3 separate regions of the Homo sapiens genome follow, and regions 1 and 2 are each linked to region 3. The links come from fine-mapping of genetic effects on gene expression. A gene starts in region 3. Each other region holds a variant in brackets. All regions are shown on one strand. Distances are from middle to middle.

Region 1 (7,700 bases), 79 kb after region 3:
ACTTAAAATCATGGCAGAAGGGGAAGCAGGCATGTCTTACATGACGGCAGGAGAGAGAGAGAGAGAGAAGCCCGGGGGACCAGGGGAAACTGCCATTTATAAAACTCTCAGATCTTGTGAGAAATCCCTCACCATCATGAGAACAGCATGGGGGAAACTGCTCCCAGGATCCAATCCCCTCCCACCAGGCCTCTCCCTCAACACCTAGGGATTACAATTCAAGATGAGATTTGGGTGGGGAAACAAAGCCTAACCATATCAGACAGAGATGTCCCACATACTGTCTAATCCTACACTTGGATAGACTCTCCCATTGTCAACATCCCTCACCGGAGTGGTACATGTGTTACAATTGAACCTACATTGACACATCAAAATCACCCAAGTTTCATAGTTTACATTAGAGTTCTTTCTTGGTGTTGTACATTTTATGAGTTTGGACAAATGTAAAATGACATGTATCTATCATTATAGTCATATAGAGTATTTCACTCCCCTTTGTTCTGCCTATTCACCCCTACCCCTAATCCCAAAATCTGGAAACCACTGATCTTTCCACGGTCTTCATAGTTTTGCCAGTTCCAGAATGTAATATAGTTGGAATCATATAGTTTAAGCCTTTTCAGATTGGCTTCTTTCACTTAGCAATATGCATTTAATATTCCTCCATGTCTTTTTGTGGCTTGATAGCTCATTTCTTTTTAGTTCTGAATAATATTCCATTATCTAGATGTACCACAGGTTTTTTTTTTTTAATCTGTCCACCCACTGAAAAATGTCTTGGTTGCTTCCAAGTTTTGGCAATTATGAATAAAGCTGTTTTAAATATCTGTGTGCAGGTTTTAAAAAACTGGATATAAGTTTTCAATTCACTTGGGTAAATACCCAGGGACATAATCGCTAGATTGTATGGTAAGAGGATGTTTAGTTTTGTGAGAAACTGCCAGACTGTCTTCCAAAGGGGCTGTACTATGTTGCATTCCCAAGAGCGATGAATGAGAATTCTTGTCACTCCATGTTATTGTCAGCATTTGTTGTTGTCAGTATTTTAGATTTTGGTCATTCTAATAGATGGTGTATTGGTATCTCATTGTTTTATTTTGCATTTTCCTGATGATAAATAATGGGGAGCACCTTTTAATATGCTTGTCATTTTTTGATGAGATATATATAAAGGGCTTTGGCTCATTTTTAAATTGAGTTTTTCTTTTCTTTGTGTTTTTAAGAGTTATTTGTATATTTTGCATGACAGTGTCTTTTGCAAATATTTTTTCCCAGTCTGTGGCTTGTCTTCTCATTCTCTTGACATTGTTTTTCACAGAGCAGAAGTTTTAAATTTTAATGAAGTCCATCTTATTATTTCTTGCTTGGATTATGCCTTTGGTGTTTTATCTAAAAAGTCATTGCTATACCCAAGATCATCTAAGTTTTGTCCTATGTTATCTTCTAGGAGTTCTGTGGTTTTGCACTTCATATTTAGGTCTATGATCCATTTTAAGTTAATTTTTGTGAAAGGTGTAAGGTCTGTGCCTAGGTTCTTTTTTTTTTTTTTTTTTTTTTGCATGTGGATGTCCAGTTGTTCTAGCAATGTTTGTTTAAAAGACTATCTGCTCCATTGTATTGCCTTTGCCTCTTTGTCAAAGATAAGTTGACTGTATTTATATGGGTCTATTCCTGGGCTCTCTTTTGTGTCCTTTTAATCTATTTGTCTGTTCTTTTGTCAATACACACTGTCTTGATGACTCAGCTTTATTGTAAATCTTGAAGTTGGGTAGTGACAGTCCTCTGACTTGTCCCATGTGTTATCTAGATGCATATTATTTAGTCCCCATGTATTTTGGGATTTTCCACTTATCTTTCTCTTATTCATTTCTACTTTAATCCCATTGTAATCTGACAGCAGGCATTGTATGATTTCTATCCTTTTCTATTTGTTAAGGTGTGTTTTATGGCCCAGAACATGGTCTGTCTTGGTGAATGTTCCATGTGAGCTTGAGAAGAATGTGCATTCTACTGCTGTTGGATGAACTAGTCTGTAGATATCAACTATATCCATTTGATTGATGGTGCTGTTGAGTTCAACTATGCCTTTACTAATTTTCTGCCAGCTGGATCTGTTCATTTCTGATAGGTGAGTACTGAAGTCTTCAAGTATGATAATGGATTCATTTATCTCTTCTTGCAGTTCTACTAGTTTTTGCTTAATGTAATTTGACATACTATTTTTAGGTGCATACATATTAAAAATTCTTAGGTCTTCTTGAAAGATTGACCCCTCTATTATTATGTAATGCTCTTTATTTCTGACAACTCTCCTTGATTTGAAGTCTGTTCTAAAATTAATATAGCTACCCCTACTTTCTTTTGATAAGTATTATCATGCTGTATTTTCCTCCATCCATCTACTTTTAATCTATATGTTTTTAGATTTAGATTGGGTTTCTTTTAGACAAGATATAGTGGGGTTTTGTTTTTTGGTCCACTCCAGCAATCTTTGTCTTTTAATTGGTACACTTAGCCTATGTTCAAAGTGATTACTGATATAGCTAGATTAATACCTACCATATTTGTTATTGTTTTCTACTTTTTGCCCTTGTTTTTTGTACCCATCTTTATTTTCCACTGAGCATTTTACGATTCCATTTTCTCCTTTTTCAGCATATCAGTTATACTTTTTTTTTTTTGAGACATAGTCTTGCTGTGTCACCCAGGCTGGAGTGCAGTGGTGTGATCTTGGCTCACTGCAAGCTCCGCCTCCTGGGTTCATGCCATTCTCCTGCCTCAGCCTCCCCAGTAGCTAGGACCACAGGCACCCGCCACCATGCCTGGCTAATTTTTTGTATTTTTAGTAGAGGTGGGGTTTCACC[A/G]TGTTAGCCAGGATGGTCTTGATCTCCTGACCTTGTGATCCGCCTACCCCAGCCTCCCAAAGTGCTGGGATTACAGGTGTGAGCCACCGTGCCAGGCCCAGTTATACTTTTAAAAAAAATTTTAGTAGTTGCCTTAGATTACAATATATATTTACAGTCAATTCAAGTCCACTTCCAAATAACACTGTACCACTTCACAGGTAGTGTGATTGTTTTATAATAACAAAATCTTAATTCCTTCCTCCCATCCCTTGTATCATTGCTGTCATTCATTTCATTTCACTTATATATAAATGTAAATATATATGATATATGCATAAGCATACATAATTGAATACATTATTGCTATTACTAGACAAACTGCTATCTGTTAGGTCAGCTAAGAATAATAAAAATAGGCCAGGTGCAGTGGCTCATGCTTGTAATCCCAGCACTTTAGGATGCCAAGGTGGGAGAATCGCTGGAGTCCAGGAGTCCAGGATCAGCATGGGCAATATAGTGAGACCTTGTCTGTACAAAAAATTAAAACCAAAAAAATTAGATGGACATGGTGGCACACGACTGTAGTCCCAGCTACTCAGGAGGCTGAAGTGGGAGGGCTGCTTGAGAGCCTAGCAGGTGGAGGTTGCAGTGAGCCAAGACTGCACCGTTGCACTCCAGGCTGGGCAACAAAATGAGACCCTGTCTCAAAGAAAAAAAAAGTTTTTATTTTACCTTCACTTATTCCTTCTTCGATGGTCTTCCCTTTTTTTTTTTTTTTAAATGCAGATCCAAGTTTCTGACCTACATCATTTTCCTTTTTTCTGAGGAACATCTTTTAACATTTCTTGAAAAGCAGGTTTACTGGCAATTAATTCCCTTAATTTTTGTTTGTCTGAAAAATAATTTCTCCTTTGCTTTTGAAAAATAATTTTACAGGATGCAGAATTTTAGGTTGGTGTTTTCTTTTTCTCAACACTTGAAATGTCTTATGGTACTCTCTTTTTGCTTGGTTTCTGAGAAGTAGTTCAATATAATTCTCATCTTTGTTTCTCTATAGATGAGGTGTTCCTTTCCCTCTCTCTGCCTGGCTTCTTTCAGGATTTGTTTTTAGCTCTGATTTTCTGTACTTTGAAAATGATATTCCTAGGTATCTTTTTTTGGGTATTTATCCAGCTTGGTGTTATTTGAGCTTCCTGGATCTGTGGTTTCATGTCTGACATTAGAGGGAAATTCTGAGTAATTGTTTCAAGCATTTCCTCTAATATTTCTCCCTCTTCTCCTGGTATTCCCATTATGGGTACACACCTTCTGTAGTTGCCTCACAATCCTTGGATATTCTGGGTTTTTTTTTTCCAGTCTTTGTTCGCTTTCCTTTTGAAGTTTCCTTGTCACATCTTCAAGCTCAGAGATTTTTTACTAAGTCATGTCCAGTCCACTAGTAAGCCTATCAAAGGCATTCTTCATTTCTGTTACAGTGTTTTTAGTTGCTAGCATTTATTTTTGGTTCTTTCTTAGGATTTCAATCTCTCTGCTTATGTAGCCCATCTGTTCTTGCATGCTGTCTACTATATCCGTTAGAGCCCTTAGCATATTAGCCATAGTTGTTTTAAATTGCCAGTGTGATAGTTCCAACATCCCTGCCATGTCTGGCTCTGATGGTTGCTCTGTCTCTTCATATTGTATGTTTTGCCTTTTAGTATGCCTTGTAATTTTTTCTTGATAGCTGGAAGTGATGTACTGGGTAAAAGTAACTGCTATAAATAGGCCTTTAGTAATGTAGGGGTAGAGTGTGGGGGGTGGGAAAGCATTCTATAGTCCTATGATCAGGTCTCAGTCTTTTAGTGAGCCTGTGCCTCTGGACTGTGAACTTTACAAATGTTTCTCAGATTTTTCCTTTCTCCTTAGGTGGGACAGAATGGCTAAAGTGGACTGGAGTTGGTCATTTTCCTTCTCTCAGGTCAGTTAGGCTCTGATAATATCCCAGCAGGTTAGGCTCTGGTGAACTAGTTTCTTCTGAGGGCAGGTCATTAAGGACAACAGAGTACTCTGGCATATTTAAAAATGGTATTTTTTTCTTCCTCCCACCTGAAGCACAAGGAGATTTTTCTCTTATATTTACCTGGATATTTGGCTGTGGGAATCTGGTTGAGCTCTGGGAAGTAAACCTTAAAATATGTGGGGACCCTCCCTCCATGACTGGGTTCCCCTGGAGGTTTTAACTCTTGGTGTTGTCCACACTGAGCCTCCAGAAATTTGTCAATTACACTTTGAGTTTTCTTACCCAGCATTGGTTCTTGATGCTGTTTCTGCATGTGAGTCCGTTTCAGGAAGCCATTCCTCCTGGTATTTGCCTTTCTGTCTCTCCAATTTTAGGGGCAGCAGTTTGTCCTGTGTCCTCCCTCATCTTATGGACCCAAGAAGAGTTGTTGATTTTTCTGTCTGGTCAACTTTTTAGTTGTTAGGATGGAGTGGTGACTTCCTTACATACAGCACCAAGAAATGGAAGTCAAATGAGAACATTTAATAGAGAGTAAGGATGGGGGTGTGTGCCAAGAATGGCTAAAGAAGGGATAATTTGAGCTGAGTTGTGAAGAATGAGTTGGAATTAAGTAGATGAAATGGATCAGAGAGGTAGAGAGTGGAAGTGAGTTGAAAATGATTTTGGCAAAGGGAATGACAGGGGCAAAAACTTATGGTGAGAGTATGATGTGATGGAGCAACTGAAAGACAGTTGACTGGCTGCTCTGTAGATGTGGGGAGGCAGTGTATTCTAAAGTAGGCTAGAGAGAAAGGAAGGGGTCAAGTAATACAGGGCCTTGTAAGTCATATTAAGGATGTTGACCTTTATGTTAAGCCTGATGGGAAGCCATTAAGTGTTTTGAGCTGGAGGTCAAGGAGAAGTTGAATTATATGATCAGTTTATATTTGGAAAAGATTACTCTGGTTGCCATGTGGGGAATGAATAGGAGGGTCAAGAATACCTATAGCAATAGTCTTGGTGAGAACAAATGGTAGCTTGGTCTAAAACTGGTAATAGTAGAAATGCAGAGGAATGCAATGAATGAGGGGCAACTTGGAGGTAAAATCTACAGATTATGGTGATGGACTGGATGTTAGGGGTGAGGGATAAGAGAAGTCTCAAGGATGACTTCTGAGTTCCTGGCTCATATAACTGAATAGATAGTGGTGCCATTCACTGAGACCGAAATCCTGGATAAAAGACAAGATTTAAGAGAAGAAAGATTGCGGTTTTGGGCAAGTTGAAGGGCCTTTTTGTGATATATAAGCAGGCAGTTGGATAAACGGGTCCAGAATCTCAAAGAGGGGGTGGCAAGGAGTCTGGGTCTGTAAATAAACATTTGGGAATCATCCTGAGTGTGGGTGTGACTGCTGAAGTGGAGAGTATAGAGTGAAAAGAGAAGCAACCTAGGACTGTACCTTGAAAAACCCTACCATTTAATGGTTGGGTGGAGGAGGATAAGCCTGCAAGGGAGACTGAAGAAATGGCCAGACAGTTAGGAGAAAACCCAAATGAGAGTAGTAGTATAAAAGCCAAAAGGAGAGGTGCTTAAACGGGGAGGGAGTGATCAATAGTGTCAGACATGGCTGAGGGCTCAGAATTAAATACGTTTATTGAATGTATTGACAAAGAGACCATTGGTGACTTCAGCAAGAGCTGAAGTGAAAGTCAAACTACTATTTATTACCTTTCACAAATTATCTATTGCAACAAGGATGAAGATAAACTTCAAACTGAGCAAAACACATAAATTAACTTTCATCAGTGTATATATTCATCATTGTATATTCCTGCTGCTTCTGTATGTTTTAGCAAAGTTTAATATTATGTAATTATAGTTCTTAGAAGGCCCTGTCATCATTTTACAGATGTGAACTGGGTAAAAGTTGAGTCCATGGAAGCAGGAAGGCTGTGGGTCTTCCACGTAGCACACTGCTCTTTCCATTGCATTATGCTCTGGGAATATGTTTCTTTGTTCAAATCATCCTTTACTATTCTGCTATACTATTCCATATATCAGTATTTTAATTTTAGAAGATAAGTTTTATAACATCAGGAAACATATCTGTTTTTTGACATTAATGACTTTTTCAAGCATATAGTATTGTATAATTTACAGAACAGGCATGTAGGATTTTTAAATAATGATCATATGTAAGATACAGTATCCTGTTACTTGGCACGGTGTTTAAACATATGGTTTTGAGCGCATGGAATGTTAAGAATTTGAAGCCAAATGAAGGTTGAACTGAATATAGAGTATATGTCTAGGGATTAGTTCTTTATAAGAGTGATTCTTGGCATTTCAGTGTTTGATTGAAATAAGTAAGAACCCTGGCTTCCCTTAAAATATGAAAGTAGTATATCCTTCAATTTGCTTTTTAGACTTGATATTTTTCATTTTGAGATTTAATGATATCCTCTCTGACTCTTTGGGATGTCAGAAAACGTCAAATTTAGAAATTACAGTCTGTAAGCTTTCCAAATCTATTCCGATTGGATTGCAGGGGCCTAAAGCCTCCTAAGGCAAATGATATGCATAGTTTTCTTTCTCTTCAATGAGAAATAGCAAATTTTAGTTTAGAATAATTAGTTCTGCTCTTATGTAATGTTATCTGTTAGGCTTTATGGAATAAAACAGTACAGTGGGCTTGAATATATCATCCAAATGAAGAAAGACAGAATCCTCAAATTTTCAATTAAACTCAGCTGAGTCTTTTCACTGGGGTTTGGTTGCAAACTATACACTTTCTCCTGGCTCTAATGAAATCATTTCATCTTCAGTGTAGTTGTTTTCCTAAAATACGAGCTTTTAGAGGTGAAAGACTGTT
Region 2 (7,700 bases), 61 kb after region 3:
AGGACCAGTTGTTACAGGAGAGGGGTCCCAATCCAGACCCCAAGAGAGGGTTCTTGGATATCATGCAAGAAAGAATTCAGGGCGAGTCCACAGTGCAAAGTAAAAGCAAGTTTATTAAGAAAATAAAGTGGTGAAAGAACAGCTACTCCATTGATAAGAGTAGGACGTTCCTGAAAGTCAGAAGAGGAATGCGTCCACCCTAGGTACAATGCTTGTATATACGGGGAGATGTGCTCTGCTACAAGGGTTTGTGATAAAGGATTAATTTTCTTAATTACTATATTTTGCAAGAATTGATACTATTATCTTTAAAGCAAAATCAGGAATGCCTTTCTTCTCCAGATATCAGGATATCTGGACACTCCCAAGTCTGGGTCTGTTTAGGAAACATTATTAATTTGTTCCCTTAACCGTAAACATTTAGAGGCTAGGAATGCCTCATTTTCTGAGAATGCAGCCCAGCAAGTCCCAGTCTTATTTTCCTAGCCCTCACTCAAAATGGAGTCACTCTGGTTCAAACGCCTCTGACACAGTGACTGAGTATGCCCTTGGGTATGCCCTACTTATTTTCTAGTGTCAACTCTTTCGTTGACAGTTTCTCTGTATTTCTGAGAAAGGGATATCCCAGGGAGTCAGAAAGGGAATCAGCCTTACAATCTCTCCAGCTACTGACACTTCTCCTCTATAGTGAGCCACAGTGAGGGGGAGGCCAGTCAGCAGCCATATGGAGTGGGGTTCTGCTTCCCTGATCCAAATAGGTTGTTTTCTCTGTGTACAAACTAGACCTTTATAGAGCTTCAAGCTGTTCTTTACTAAAGAGTCAAGTGAACATTCCTGAGTCACTTGGAGTCCATAGGCAGAGATCAGGCATTCAGCTTTTGGTCTAGTCTCTCCCCACCTCTAAGCAAGAGGAAGGCAGAACCTCACCTCATAAGCCATCAGATGACAGGCTATCTCAGGAGCAATTCTCCGTTTCTTTTACACAAACCACCCTTTAGCCCTCCGAATAAAGTTTCAGCCCCTAGTTTCTTTTGCATTTCATAGATTTTCTTGCTTAATATAGCCACTGGATGTACACATGTATTCTTTCTGCTTTTTTGTCTCCATTTGTCTCTTCAGGGAGAGAGATTCTGTAAAGACTGAAGAACAGGGGGAGTCCACTGAGTGCTTTCCAGCTGCAGCTGGTTTCCCCCTAAAGTACCACAAATCAATGTGCCATTATGAGGATTAATTGAGGATTAATTTTCGTTCCATCACTCTGCAATCTAATCTACATTAGAAACATCTAATCTTCCTATTGACATTTGTCCTTTCCTTTTTCTGGTTTCCATTTCAAAGGACCCTCACATTAACGGCACATGGCTCTACTTAAGCAACCTGGTTAACTAAAGCTAGGATTTAAATGTTTCTCTTTAATCCTCAAGTTTATTCTCTGATAATGGGGTGGAGGGGTGGATAGTCTCCTTTTATGCCACCACACTAGTTGGATATTTAGTGGTTTTATAAACTTGTAAGCAGACAAGGCCACAGATATTGATTTGGACTAACTGAAGCAGAAGGAAATTATTGGAAGACTGTTGGGATGCTCAGAGTGATGGGAGCTAGGACAATCAGACCTGGAAATGGGCAGGAATCAAGAGGGATCTGGGGGATTGGCCATTAGGAACCCAGGCAATTTTCTTAAAGCAAGATAGTGAAAAGTGCATACCATCCCTGTGGAAATAACTTCCACATTTTCCTGCTGTCTGCCTGTCAACAGCTCAACAGTCTGAGCCCCAGAAAGAGCATCTGATGACTGATATTGGGTCACATACCTGGCCCCTGGTCCTGCAGAGTCAAGGAGGGCAAGGATCTGTTTCCTTCGGCTTTGGTAATGGAATGTAGTCACCAGGAATGGCAGCCCCACTAAGATTACACACAATGTAGATCTGTGAATTCCAAAAGGAAATGTGGAGGCTCTTAGGGCAGCCAAAACAAAACAAATGCCAACCAGAACTGTTTTTTTCTTTTGAGGTGGAATCTAGCTCTGTCACCCAGGCTGGAGTGCAATGGCACGATCTCGGCTCACCACAACCTCCGCCTCCTGGGTTCAAGCCATTCTCCTGCCTTAGCCTCCCAAGTAGCTGGGACTACAGGCACACGCCACCACGCCAGGCTAATTTTTGTAGTTTTAGTAGAGACAGGGTTTCACCATGCTGGCCAGGCTGGACTCAAACTCCTGACTTCAAGTTATCCACCTGCCTCAGCCTCCCGAAGTGCTGGGATTACAGGCGTGAGCCACTGTGCCTGGCCAGAACTGTGTTTTCAGTGGGCCAGTTGAAATGTAGGAGAAAGAAATTGAGAAATAAGGATGGAAGGAAACAGGGAGAAGGGTGGTAGAAAATGGAAGTGAGCAAGAAAGCAGAAAACATTCACTCAAGAAAAACTGTTCTTTGGCAATAGGTACATCTCTATGCAAGTCAGTGTGGCTTTTTTCCTCTAACATGATTTTAAAAGCTCTCTGAAAGCTCAGAAAACAGAAAACACATCTTGGTGACCTAGAAGTATAGTCATCTTCTTTCACCACCAGATGGTGCTTTATGTATAGAATGGAGGACAAGGATCCTGAGGACATTCCCAAACACTTGCATATTTAGGAAGCTCTTTTACTTAACAGTGATTCAAGAAATATTGGGGAAATGCAAGCCCAGATGAGGGACGCCTAACCTAGCTATACAGATAGGCAGGGGAGGGCGTCCTTAACCACAGTTGAGGCTTGCACCCAAGGACAGGATAGAGATTGGGAGGGGAATTCCAATTTAAGAAAGAACCACCAGAAGTAGAGAGGCTTAAGAAAGCACATTGCCTTCTAGGAATCACAGGTTGTAGGCTGGGAATGGACAGTATTTCAGGTGGAGGAAATAGAATGAACAAAGGTGTGAAAAATGTACAAACAGATTTGGATTTAACTATGGTTATTCAATTGTTTAGCTTATTATTGGGATTGTCTCAATTCTGCATCATATGACCTGACCTTGGAAAAGCGGGCCATCTGTTTAGGGTAACAACTATGATTCTATCCCTCAGAATACTCAGTTTTCCTTAGCCAGTCCTTGCTCTTTAGCTTCCCCATTTTCTTGTCCTTTTCTGTGCTAGAGGTGTATTGAAACTGATGCATTGCAAAACTGGTATTACATTAAATACACTGAACCTCAGATGCTTATGGAACACTTACACTATTTATACAGAAGAATAAGCAAAAGTGTCCAGGCACGGGGGCTCATGCCTGTAATCTCAGCGCTTTGGGAGGCCGAGGCGGGTGGATCATGTGAGGTCAGGAGTCTGAGACCAACCTGGCCAACATGGTGAAACCCAGTCTCTACTAAAAATACAAAAATTAGCAGGCTGTGATGGCAGGTGCCTGTAATCTCAGCTACTCGGGAGGCTGAGGCAGGGGAATGGCTTGAACCCAGGAGATGAAGGTTGCAGGGAGCCAAGTTTGTGCCACTGCACTCCAGCCTGGGCAACACGGTGAGACTCCATCTCAAAAAAAAAAAAAAAAAAAAAACCAAAAAAAAAGAATAAGCAAAAGCTCCTACCCTATAACACTGATGCATTCTGTTTGCATTTTATTCCATGATTTACACAATAATTATATATTGTATCCTTATGATATGTCAGATACTGTGTTGGCACTTTACATATATCTCACTT[A/C]ATCCTTAATACCATCTGGAAATAATAAACATTTTATGGATGGTGAAACAGAGACACAGAGAAATCGAATAGCCTGCTCAGGGTTTCCAGAATAGCAAAATTAAAGGCCTAGGGTTTAGTTTTCCACTAAAGATTCTCATGGCTGGCTTCTTCACGTCATTCAGGTCTCTGCTCAAATGTAATCTTAGAGAAGCTACATTAATCCATCTGAAATAGACACCTCACTGTGCATCCAATTGTCCTGCCTTATTTTTCTTTGTAACATTATTATATTATTTATATTTGTATTGTCTGTATCTCCTCCTAGACTATGATCTCTGTTAGGACAAGCTCTTGGTTGTGTTTGCTGCTTATTACCACACTACCCAGACCAGAGCCTGGCACATAATAAGGAGCTCAACAAATTTTTGTTAAGAATAATTGACTCTTAGACCCAAACTCTTAGCCACTATGCTATATTTTGTCCCTAGATGGGATTAAGAAGGTTTACATTTTGAATATCCTGATACCAAAGAGCATGCTGCACAAAGCCTGTGCATGGAATGTGCCAAATAGTATGTAAACTGCGCCAGACGCGGTGGCTCACGCCTGTAATCCCAGCACTCTGGGAAGCCGAGGCGGGCGGATCACAAGGTCAGGAGAGTGAGACCATGCTCGCTAACTCGGTGAAACCCCATCTCTACTAAAAAAAATACAAAAACTTAGCCGGGCGTGGTAGCGGGCGCCTGTGGTCCCAGCTACTTGGGAGGCTGAGGCAGGAGAATGGTGTGAACCCGGGAGGCGTAGCTTGCAGTGAGCCGAGATCGTGCCACTGTACTCCAGCCTGGGTGACAGAGCGAGACTCTGTCTAGAAAAAAAAAAAAAAAAAAAAAAAAAAAAAAAAATATATATATATATATATATATAGAGAGAGAGAGAGAGAGAGAGAGAGAGAGAGAGTATGTAAACTGCCACTCTATACTCTTAAAATTCGAGTTTAATTTACACACAGTAAAATAAATAAATCTTAAGTATGTATGTATTTTTACAAATGCATACACTTTTGTAACCACCAATCATATCAAGATACAGAACATTTTTTAGCCTCCAAGGAAGCTCTCTTGTAGTAACTCCCAGTCAATACTCTACTTTGCAGAGATAAATATTCTGACTTCTATCAAATAGGTTAGTTTCTGGGTCTTAAGCTTCACATAAATGCAGTCATACAGTTTGTACTCTTATGTCTCTCTTCTTTTGCTCACCATAATATTTTGGAGATTTATCTATGTTCTGTATATCAGTGGTAGTTTATTTTTTTATTGTTGTGTTATATTCCATTGTATGAATAAATAACAATTTGTTTATACATTCACCTGCTAGTGGATGTTTAGGCTGTTGCCAAGTTTTGGTTATTAAGTATAAAGCTGCTTTAAATATTGTTGTAAAAGTTTTTACAGACATATGTACTTCATATGTTATTTTAGGGGGTATATAATTAGGAACAGAATTGCTGCATCATAAGGTAGATGTTTGTTTATCTTTCTTTTCTGAAGAGTGCCTGTTCAAGTGTTTTGCCCATTTAAAAAGCTTTCTTATTGATCCGTAGAGTTATTTATGTATATAATCCTTTAACAGATATAAGTATTGCAAATATATTCTCCTACTTTGTAATTGCCTATTCAATTTCCTGCTAATGTATTTTGATAATAGAGGTTCTCAATTTTAATGAAGTCAAATTTATCAATTTTGTCTCTTAAGGTTAGAGCTTTTTCTGTCATGTTTAAGAAATCATTGTCTACCCCAAAGTTATGAAGTTATTCTGTTTTCTTCTAAAGCTTTCTGTTTCAGATTTCACATTAGAGAATATGATCCACCTTGAATTAAGTTTTGGATTTGTTGTGAGTTAGAGTTTATTTTCTTTCCCATATGGATATACAGTTGTTGAAGTACCATTTAATAAAAACACTATCATTTCCCCATTGAATTGTAGTAACACCTTTGTTATAAACTAAATGATGTATATGTAGAGGGTATTTCTGGACTCTGTTTTGTTACATTGGCCTATTTGCCTCTCCTTGCACCAATACCACCTTGTCTTAATTACTGCCGCTTTATAGTTAGTCTCGAAATCTGATAGTAAAGTTTTCAACTTTATTCTTCTGAAAGATTATTCTTGGCTATTTTAGGTTCTTTGCATTTCCATATAATTTAAGATTTATCCTGTTGATGTCGACCAAATATTTTATGTGGGTTTTTATAGGTTGGGTTTGCATTGAATCTACTTATCAAATTGGGGGAAATTGACATCTTATCAATTTTGAGTCTTTTGATTCATGCACATGATATAGCTCTTCATTTATTTAGGTCACTTTTAATTTCTCTCAGGAATATTTTGTAGTTTTCACTATTAGCCTTGTGGAACTCTTCTTAAATTTGTTCCTAAATATTTGATTTTTTAATGTTACTATAAATTACATTTTAGAATATTTCATTTTCTGATCATTTCTTGATAGTATATAGAAATATACTTGGTTTTCATGTGCTGACTTCGTATCCAGAGAGCTTGCTAAATTAATTCTAATAGTTTGTATAGTTTCAGATTTTCTGTCTTCACAATCATGTAATACATAAATGAAGACAGTTTTACTTTTTGTTTTTGATCTTTATACCTTCTATTTCTCTTTCTTGTCTTGTAGAACTCTCTTGGGCCTACAGCATAATGATGAATAACAGCTGTGGTAGTAAAGATCCCCATCTTATTCTTGACTCTGGGGAGAAAATGTTAACCATTGATAATGACACAGCTACGGGGTTTTATTACTAGATAACCCTTTGAGATTAAGGATGTTTTATTCAATTTCTCCTTTGTTGAGGATTTTTTTCTAAAATCATCAATGCATGTTCAGTTTTATCAAATATATTTTCTTCACCTATTAAGATGATTTTATTCTGCCCCTTCTTCCCATATTATTCTGTTAATGTGGTGAATTATAATGACAGAATTTTTAAATGTTAAATCAACCTTTTATTCCTGGAGTACATCCTTCTTTGTTATGGTATGTTATTATTTTTTTATATTCCTGGATCCCATTTATTGATTTTTGTTTTGTTTTGTTTTGTTTTGAGACAGGGTCTTGCTCTGTCACCCAGGCTGGAGTGCAGTGGTGTGATCATAGCTCACTGTAACCTCATACTCCTGGGCTCAACTGATCCTCCCACATCAGCCTCCTGAGTAGCTGGGCCTACAGATGCATGCCACCAATGTAAACACATTTTTTAGAGACAGGATCTCACTATGTTGCCCAGGCTGGTCTCAAACTCATGGGCTCAAGTAATCCTCTCACTTTTGACTTCCCAAAGTGCTGGGATTACAAGCATAAGCCACTACACCCTGCCAATTTATCGATATTTTGTTACGATTTTTATATCTATGTTCAAGAGAGATTCTAGACTATAAATTTCCTTACTTGTACTGTCATATTTTGGTATCAATGTTTTGCCAGTCTTAAAAAGTGAGTTCAGACATGTCTCTTCTTTTTTAATTGTCTGGAATAGTTTGTGTAAATCCAGTATTATTTGTTCTTGAATTATTTGTAAGAATTTAGCATTAAAGCCATATAAACCTGGCATTTCTTTGCAGGAAAGTTATTTTTTTTAAACAAACATATGGAAGTAATTTGCTTTGTTTATGTCAGCACAAACTTAGTCATTTTCCACATACACCCTCCCAAGACTAAACCAGGAAGAAGTTGAACCCCTGAAAAGACCAATAACAGGCTCTGAAATTGAGGCAATAATTAATAGCTTACCAACCAAAAAAAGTCCGGGACCAGATGGATTAATAGCCGAATTCTACTAGAGGTACAAAGAGGAGCTGGTACCATTCCTTCTGAAACTATTCCAAGCAATAGAAAAAGAGGGAATCCTCCCTAACTCATTTTATGAGGCCAGCATCATCCTGATACCAAAGCCAGGCAGAGACACAACAAAAAAGAGAATTTTAGACCAGTATCCCTGAGGAACATCAA
Region 3 (7,700 bases):
CCACCCTGCCCCGCCTTTTAAATACTATACTGTCTTGATGACTGTTTCTTTGTAGCAAGTTTTGAAATCAGGAAGTATGGATATTCTTAGTTTGTTCTTTTCAAGATTGTTTTGGCTATTCTGGATCCTTTGCTTAAGAGTTTTAGAATCAGGTTGTCACTTACTACAAAGAAGTCAGCTAGGAGTCTGATGGTAATTGCATTGAATCTGTAGATCAATTTGGGGAGTACAGCCTTCTAAACAATATTAAATCTTCTGACCCATGAATATGGGACGTTTTCCCATTTATTTAGATGTCCTTTAATTTCTGTGTTACTCCATTTGCATTGCTATAAAGAAGTACCTGAGGCTGGGTAATTTATAAAGAAAAGAGGTTTATTTTGACTCAGTTCTGCAGGCTGTACCAGCATGGCAGCAATATATGTCCAGCTTCTGGTAAGGGCCTCAGGAAGCTTACAATCATGACGGAAGCGGAAGGGGGAGCAGGCATATCACATGGCGAGAGGGAGCAAGGGAGATGCCAGGCTCTTTATTTTTTATTTTTTTAAACAATCAGCTCTTGAATGAAATAATACAGTGAGAACTCATTACTGCAAGGATAGCACCAAGCCATTCACGAGGGATCTGCCCCCATGCTCCAAACACCTCCCACTAGGCCAACCTCCAACAATTAAGTTCACATTTCAGCATGAGATTTGGAGGAGACAAATGTCCAAGCCAGATCAATTTCTTACAACAATTTTTTGTAGTTTTCAGAGTATATACTTTATACTTCTTTTGTTAAATGAGAATTTTAAATGAAATTATCTTCTTAATTTCATTTTTGGATTGTTCACTGCAAGTGTATAGCAACACAATTTATTTTTGTATATTGACCTTGTATCCTTCAATCTTGCTGAAATTGTTTATTAGTTCTAATAGGTTTTTAGTGGATCCCTTAGGATTTTCTATATACAAGATCATGTTGGCCAGGCGTGTTGGCTGACACCTGTAACCCTAGCACTTTGGGAGGATGAGTTGGGTGGATCACCTGAGGTCAGGAGTTCGAGACCAGCCTTGCCAACATGGTGAAACCCCATCTCTACCAAAAAATACAAAAATTAGCCAGGCATGGTGGTGCATGCCTGTAGTTCCAGCTACTTGGGAGGCTAAGGCAGGAGAATCGCTTGACCCTGGGAGGTGGAGATTGCAGTGAGCTGAGATCGCCACTGCACTCCAGACTGGGCAACAGAGTGAGACTCTGTCTCAGTCTCAAAAAAAATAAAAAATAAAAAGATCATGTCATCTGTGACTAGAGATTGTTTTACTTTTTCATTTCCAGTTTTATTTATCTTGCCTAATTGCCTTGGCTGGAACTTCCAGTGCAATGTTGAGTACAAGCAGCTATAAAAGACACCTTTGTCTTGTTCCTGATCTTTCACCATTAAGTATGAGGTTAGCTGCGGAGTTTTTGTAGATGTTCTTCATCAGGTTGAGGAAGTTCTCTTCTATTCCTAGTTTGTTGACTGTTTTTATCATGAAAAGAGTGTTGGATTTTTCCATCAATTCTTAAAACGTGACCCTTTTCCCCTATGGATGAGGGATGTAAAAAAGAGCTATCTCTGCATGGATGATATAGTACAAAGCACTCTCACGTGGATGCTTCAGAAAAAGCCACCCCTCTTTGGGTGGACATAGTCTGGGATATGTTTGACTTGGTGACCAAGGACTCCTCTCTCATTTGGGTGTCCTTATTTAGGACCGAATCTGTACATGGTGGCCTTAATTTACAACCACTTTTTTTCAGTATATGGTTTCCTAGTACCCAGGGTGCCTCTGATTTAATTTTTTTCCACAGAGATTTCATACCAGTGGCCTTTTGCAAGGTGTGGATGAGGAACAGATATAAACATCTTAACACTGATTTTAAGCAATCTACCTGTCTTACCCTTGCATTCTGTGGCCCCTGATATCTCCAGTTCCTGAGCTTCTCTGATATTTATCTTTCTCTGTAGTACCTGAGTTTGATCTTCCACGCCTCTGCTAAGTCATTTGCCTTTCTTTTATCTACTTTCCATTGATATCTGTTGTGACTTGGGGTTACAGATATCTCCCAGTTCAGGGAAGACAGAGTTTGTGTGTCTATTTGTTGTTCTCCTTGTTTTGTAAAGAAAAATTTTTCAGAGAAGAGAAAAAATATTTTTTTGCTCTCTTCAAGTCAGAATTCAACCTAGAATTGGAAGAAACATAATGGCCAAAATGATAAAATAAATGATCTCATCATTAGGTTAATTAATGAAGAGCTAACACCAGGATTCAGAATCCCTGATACCCTGGCCACAATTAAACTATAACTGGTTCTTACTCCATAGAATCATATAGTTTGAGATGGGGGGGAGTACCTCTGAGGTTTTCAGCCAATTTCCCCAATTTTCCGTAAGTCTCCTCAACAATGTAAGTGGATTTCAGCATTGGTTACAATATCAATGTGAATAGGAGCATTCACTCTATTCCATGACTATCTATTCTTATTTCAGAGAGCTCTGATTATTGGAAAGATTTTTTTCCCTGAAACATTTTTTCACTTCCTCACACTGTATCTAGTTCTGCCCGCAGAAGTTACAAAGAACTACTGTATGTACAAATAATATAGTTTGGTAGCTGGAATACTGGCTACTCTAGAGATATGATACTGTACTCACTGCCTCTAACTCTTTGTACAATCTATAACTAAGACAGTTGACCAGCAAAATGGAGAAAAAGCTCATATCTCACATAACAGAGATTGAGACAATTAATAAACATCATCTGTAATTTATAAAAAAAATTCTAAGCTAGCTAGTTCTCAATCCACTAAATATAAGATTGCTGGGTAGGAGAAGAAATGACTATCAGGTGGGTCATAGAAAGGTTAGTGAAGAAAAGTGAGAGGATGTGTAAGAAATAACCAAGTGAATATTACAGGGAGATAAAACAAGTTGCATAAGCACATACAAATTTAAAAGTAGGAGTTGCTCAGAGAATTCAAAAGTATGGCTAGTGCACAAGGTGGGTATGAAGAAGACATGGAAAATTAGTTAGGAAAGGCAATAATGCTAAATATTAACATTTATTGAGTAAGCTACATTCTGGCCACTATTGAGTACTTTACGTGTAAGAACCCTCAAAACAACTTTATGAGGTAGATACTACTATTACTTCATTTTAAAGATGGGGAAAAGGAGGTATGGGAGTGTTAGGTTAACTTGCCTGAGATTATGTAACTAATAAATGGCAGAGATGGGCTCTGAACCCAGGTAGTGTGGGTGCCTTAATTTATGAAGTGGTCTTCATATGAATGGCCTTTTTATTCTGAAGGTTCTAGGACTTTTTAGATAGTAAGTTGGAAACATTGGTAGATCCTTTCCTACCTCTTCACCTTTGGCACAGCTATCTCAAAGGAGTATCGGTGATAAGATAGGTGATCAGTTTAGGGATCCACAGTGGAGGCCAGAGGACTGTTCCAAACACTGATCCCCCATATATAAACTGAGAACTGGGAAGACAGACCTGCTTTACGGCTGGTGGCCAAGCTCAGATATTTCAAATTGGACAGAGACCCTTTACTATCCTATTCAAGAAGAAAAGGAATTGGAGCTGTGAAAGGGAGAATAAGTATTGGTGGCAATCGGTACTTAATGCCAGTATTTTTTTTTTTTTTTTTGGCTATTGTTTTGTATTTCCTATGAAACTTTTCTGCAGATCCACATAGAAAAAAAATAGACATTTTTACAATAAAACTCCCACTAATTAAGCACAGCCAAGCACTGTTTTAAGTGTTTTATACATATTAGCTCATTTAATCCTCACAGCAACCCTAGGCAATAGGCTCATTATTTGTCTTTTGCAAAGGAGGGGCACTGAAGCACAAAGACATCTACAACTCGTCCACAATTGTACAGCAAATGAATGGGAGAACTAAGTGAAGCTGGAAAGAACTACTATAAATTGTAGACAAGTACAAAACAATTGGTTAAAGATTAATACTTCTGAGACACTGTGTAGCAGAAAGAAACCCGGATTTGGATTAGGACTTGAATTCAGCCTCCAACATTTACTGCTGTGTAAAGATTTGAGGCTGATCACTCCTATAAAATTTGGATTATAATACTTACCTCATAGGGTTTTTGTAAAGATCTAGTGACGTGATTATTGTAAAAGTGCACCGTTAATCTCTCAGATGTCACAGAAACGTTAGAAGCATCTCTTCCCAGGATTGTACATGGAAATGAAGGATCCACAGATTTTGTGGCTATAAAACACCCGGACTACCGATCCCAGTGTGCAAAGCCTCCAGGCTTACCTTCCCGGAAACTGGCGCGGTGCCCTCTGGGACTTGTTCTGGGACTTGTAGTCTTGTACTGGCGCTGGCCCGCCTTTCTTCCTTAGTGGGGAAAACCGGGTGTAAGCCCCGGAAGTACTTGTTGCCTGAGCAGTGGGCTGCTTAGGAAGAGAAGGTCAGAGTTCGCGGGGGCAGAGGCATTCTTGCCGCTGGCCCAGTCACTATGTAGTGGAGGGGCAGACACCCTCCCGCAAATTCTGGAAGGTTCTTAGTCTCGACTAGGGCAGTAGCCCCAGGACTCCTAGTCGCCGGCTTCAGGTCACTGCCGGCTGAACGGAGCTGCCGTCGCCATGTTTGGCTGCTTGGTGGCGGGGAGGCTGGTGAGGATGGGACCGGGTGATATCAGGAAGGGGTCAGGATACCGAGGGCGAAGCCCTACGGCAGGGAGGGTGCGCAGGCGCTAGGGATGCGGGGAAGCCCACTTATTATATTTTGGGTGGGTATGTGAGGATGGAGCGTGGGAAGCTGGGTGCTCTCCTTTGCCCAGCTCTATTCAGATTCTTTCGAATAGTAGTCACAGTATAAGTTGGCATTTATTAAGTGTGCATTTTGTACCAAGTACTGGGCTAAGTGCAATGCACGCCTTTGGTCACTCAGCCTTATGTGTGGCGCTTATTTGGCACTTTGAACTTAATCCTCATAACTCGTGAGATGGTCTTTATCTTTGACATTTTGCAGTTACAGAACTAAGTTCAATCGCCAGTATAAATACCTTCTTTATTAACTTGAGGTAGAGGTGAATTTGGGATTGAATTTGGTCTATAGCAAACTGTTTTTCAAAGATTAAGGTGCTCAGGGAATGTATATCTTTTGGGTCCCTTTGGAAGAACCCGAGTAAAAATAAGCTTAATTTAATTGGAAGTTGGCTGAAACTTAACGTGTGAGCCGTATCTGAGATAACCAGAGAAGGATGCGAGTAGTGTGTTTCCTTATGGGTCAAAATAGATAACTTACCTTGCCAAATTGTTAGAGTAAATGAGAACAGCACCTGGAATTCTTTAGGAATAATCTGGAAGGTGAATCTTGTTTGTTTCCTTAGAAACCACACAGACATCAATTTTCAGGCCTGATTCCTTTCCCCTAGAAGTATTTTTCCTTCTTTTTTCTCCTGGCTTTTTAAAATGTTGCAGTCCCTTTGCTGAATTGTCTTTTTTTCCCATCAAGTTTTGATAATGTATTGTATTCTGTACATATACAGTTCTAAGAAGCCAGAAAGATAAGTTGGAGATGACTAGCCTCATAAAGTTTGTCTCTTGAATGACTGGGAGACCCCTGTGGTGATGGTGGTAATTCATAATCCTGGTGAGATAATTTTGCCCTGCTCTTAATAGGGAAAAAGGACAAACCTGGAATGATTGTGTGACTCAGACGAGTGAGTGTTATTAATGAATGACATTAAAATTGTGTTTCTTAAAGAATAAAAAGCCTATTTGGAATCCATGTATCTCTCACGTTGTCAACTAATTTGGAAGGAAATTTAGTTATGGTAATACCTGCCTCTATATATTGGGGATACTTGGTCCTTTAATTATGGAGTATTAGGACACATCAAAGTGAAGGACAAATAGACCTAGTGGCATCTCAAAACTTAACTACACGACTCTGTTATAAGAAAAATCTACTTATCTAAACTTATGAACCCAGTTTTTATTTCTTAAGATTTTTTTTCTTAAAGAGATACACCTTTTCTTAATGTCAAAAATTAGAGTGTGATGATACAGATTTGCAGACTGTTCAGTACCTATACAAAGTTGACACTTAAGAAATATTTATTTTGCCTGGTGGTTATTTCAAGACTCATAAATAATAATTTCCCATGCTTTTTAGGTTATATGCATGCCAAAGACTGGTGAAATTGAATTTAATACTAATACAGGCCATTTGGTTTGTGTTATTCCTTTGTTTTATTCTTTATACTAAAGCTGGAGGATTTTAAAGTGGGTCAGAATACTTCTGAAGAGGGAATCAGAATTTGACTTTAGGAACACTGCCTTTGTATCTTGAGACTTAATTTAGGGCAGCCAGTTGATACTACTTTATAACTAATAGATAGTTGAAATTACATAGCAGTATATTTTTCCTAAGTTTATTTGTATCGGTAGATAGGATATTATAGAGGGAAAACTTACCTAACACACATATTTTCTCTGTAAGGCATGTCATAGCCTTCTTGCACTTAGGAAGACTAGCCAGCACTTGAACTTGGTCATTTTAAACAGCACGATCACCAACAAAAATCACAAAAATGCTTTAAATAGATGAGACTGTGAAAAGGACACTTTTTCATATTACGAGGACTGAAACAAGATGGCATGTTCTACCTCAGCTGCCAGTGTGTGAGTTGCACAACTCACTTTTTTTTTTTTTTTTTTTTTTGAGACGGAGTCTTACTCTGTCAGCCAGGCTGGAGTGCAATGGTGTGATCTCTGCTCATCGCAACCTCCGCCTCCAGGTTCAAGCAATTCTCATGCCTCAGCCTCCTGAGTAGCTGAGACTACAGGCATGTGCCCCCATGCCCAGCTAATTTTTATATTTTTAGTAGATACTACGTTTCGCCATGTTGGCCAGGCTGATCTGGAACTCCTGACCTCAGGTGATCAACCCGCCTTGGCCTCCCAAAGTGCTGGGATTACAGGCATGAGCCACTGTGCCAGGCCTACAACTCACATTTTTTACTACTGTTCATATGAGTATGTCCATGAATGACTGCAGAAATGCAGCAAGCATTGATTTGGGATTACAAGTGAGTTTTAGTGAGTAGGTGAATTCAGATACAGGATTTGTGAATAAGGAGGATTGCCTAATTACTTCTGGATTGCTTACCTGTTTTAATTACCTGAGATTCTTTTATTTATTTTTGAGACAGGGTCATGCTCTGTCATCCAGGCTGTAGTGCAGTGGCGGGACCTCGGCTTGCTGCAGCCTTGACATCCTGGGTTCAAGTGATTATCTGGTCTTAGCCTCCCGAGTAGCTGGGACCAAAGGCGCATGCCACCACCCCTGGCTAATTTTTGTAGTTTTTGTAGAGATCGGATTTTGCCATGTTGCCCTGGCTGGTCTTGAACTCCTGAGCTCAAGCCAGCTGACTGCCTCGACCTCCCAAAGTGCTGGGATTACAGGCATGAGCCACTGTGCCTGGCCCCTTTATCTTTAAGCTGGAGGGTGAGAGCTTAGGTGATGTGTTTTGAATAACCTTTCATTTTTACAACATTCTGAAGCTATAGTTATTTTTATTTATTTATTTTTTTGAGACGGAGTTTAGCTCTTGCACCCAGGCTGGTGCAATGGCGCGATCTCAGCTCACCGCAACCTCTACCTCCTGGGTTCAAGTGATTCTCCT

The links.
Region 1: its variant is fine-mapped to the expression of HIKESHI in whole blood (TOPMed, PIP above 0.99).
Region 2: its variant is fine-mapped to the expression of HIKESHI in nasal epithelium (TOPMed, PIP 0.97).

Annotation. Positions count from the first base shown.
Region 1 is chr11:86,376,431-86,384,130 of GRCh38, forward strand. All of the region lies in intron 1 of CCDC81 (coiled-coil domain containing 81), which reads left to right. The region is part of intron 2 of LOC105369421 (a long non-coding RNA gene); the gene reads right to left. Among named protein-coding and RNA genes, the nearest start is that of CCDC81, 5.4 kb to the left of the region's middle. The variant A/G (reference allele first, on the strand shown) is at 2,868.
Region 2 is chr11:86,358,400-86,366,099 of GRCh38, forward strand. LOC105369421 (a long non-coding RNA gene) reads right to left here. Exons shown (of 5, transcript XR_007062826.1): 3 at 1,815-1,928. Among named protein-coding and RNA genes, the nearest start is that of CCDC81, 13 kb to the right of the region's middle. The variant A/C (reference allele first, on the strand shown) is at 3,694.
Region 3 is chr11:86,297,799-86,305,498 of GRCh38, forward strand. It overlaps HIKESHI (heat shock protein nuclear import factor hikeshi), which reads left to right and starts at 4,442. Exons shown (of 5, transcript NM_016401.4): 1 at 4,442-4,680. The coding sequence starts at 4,651.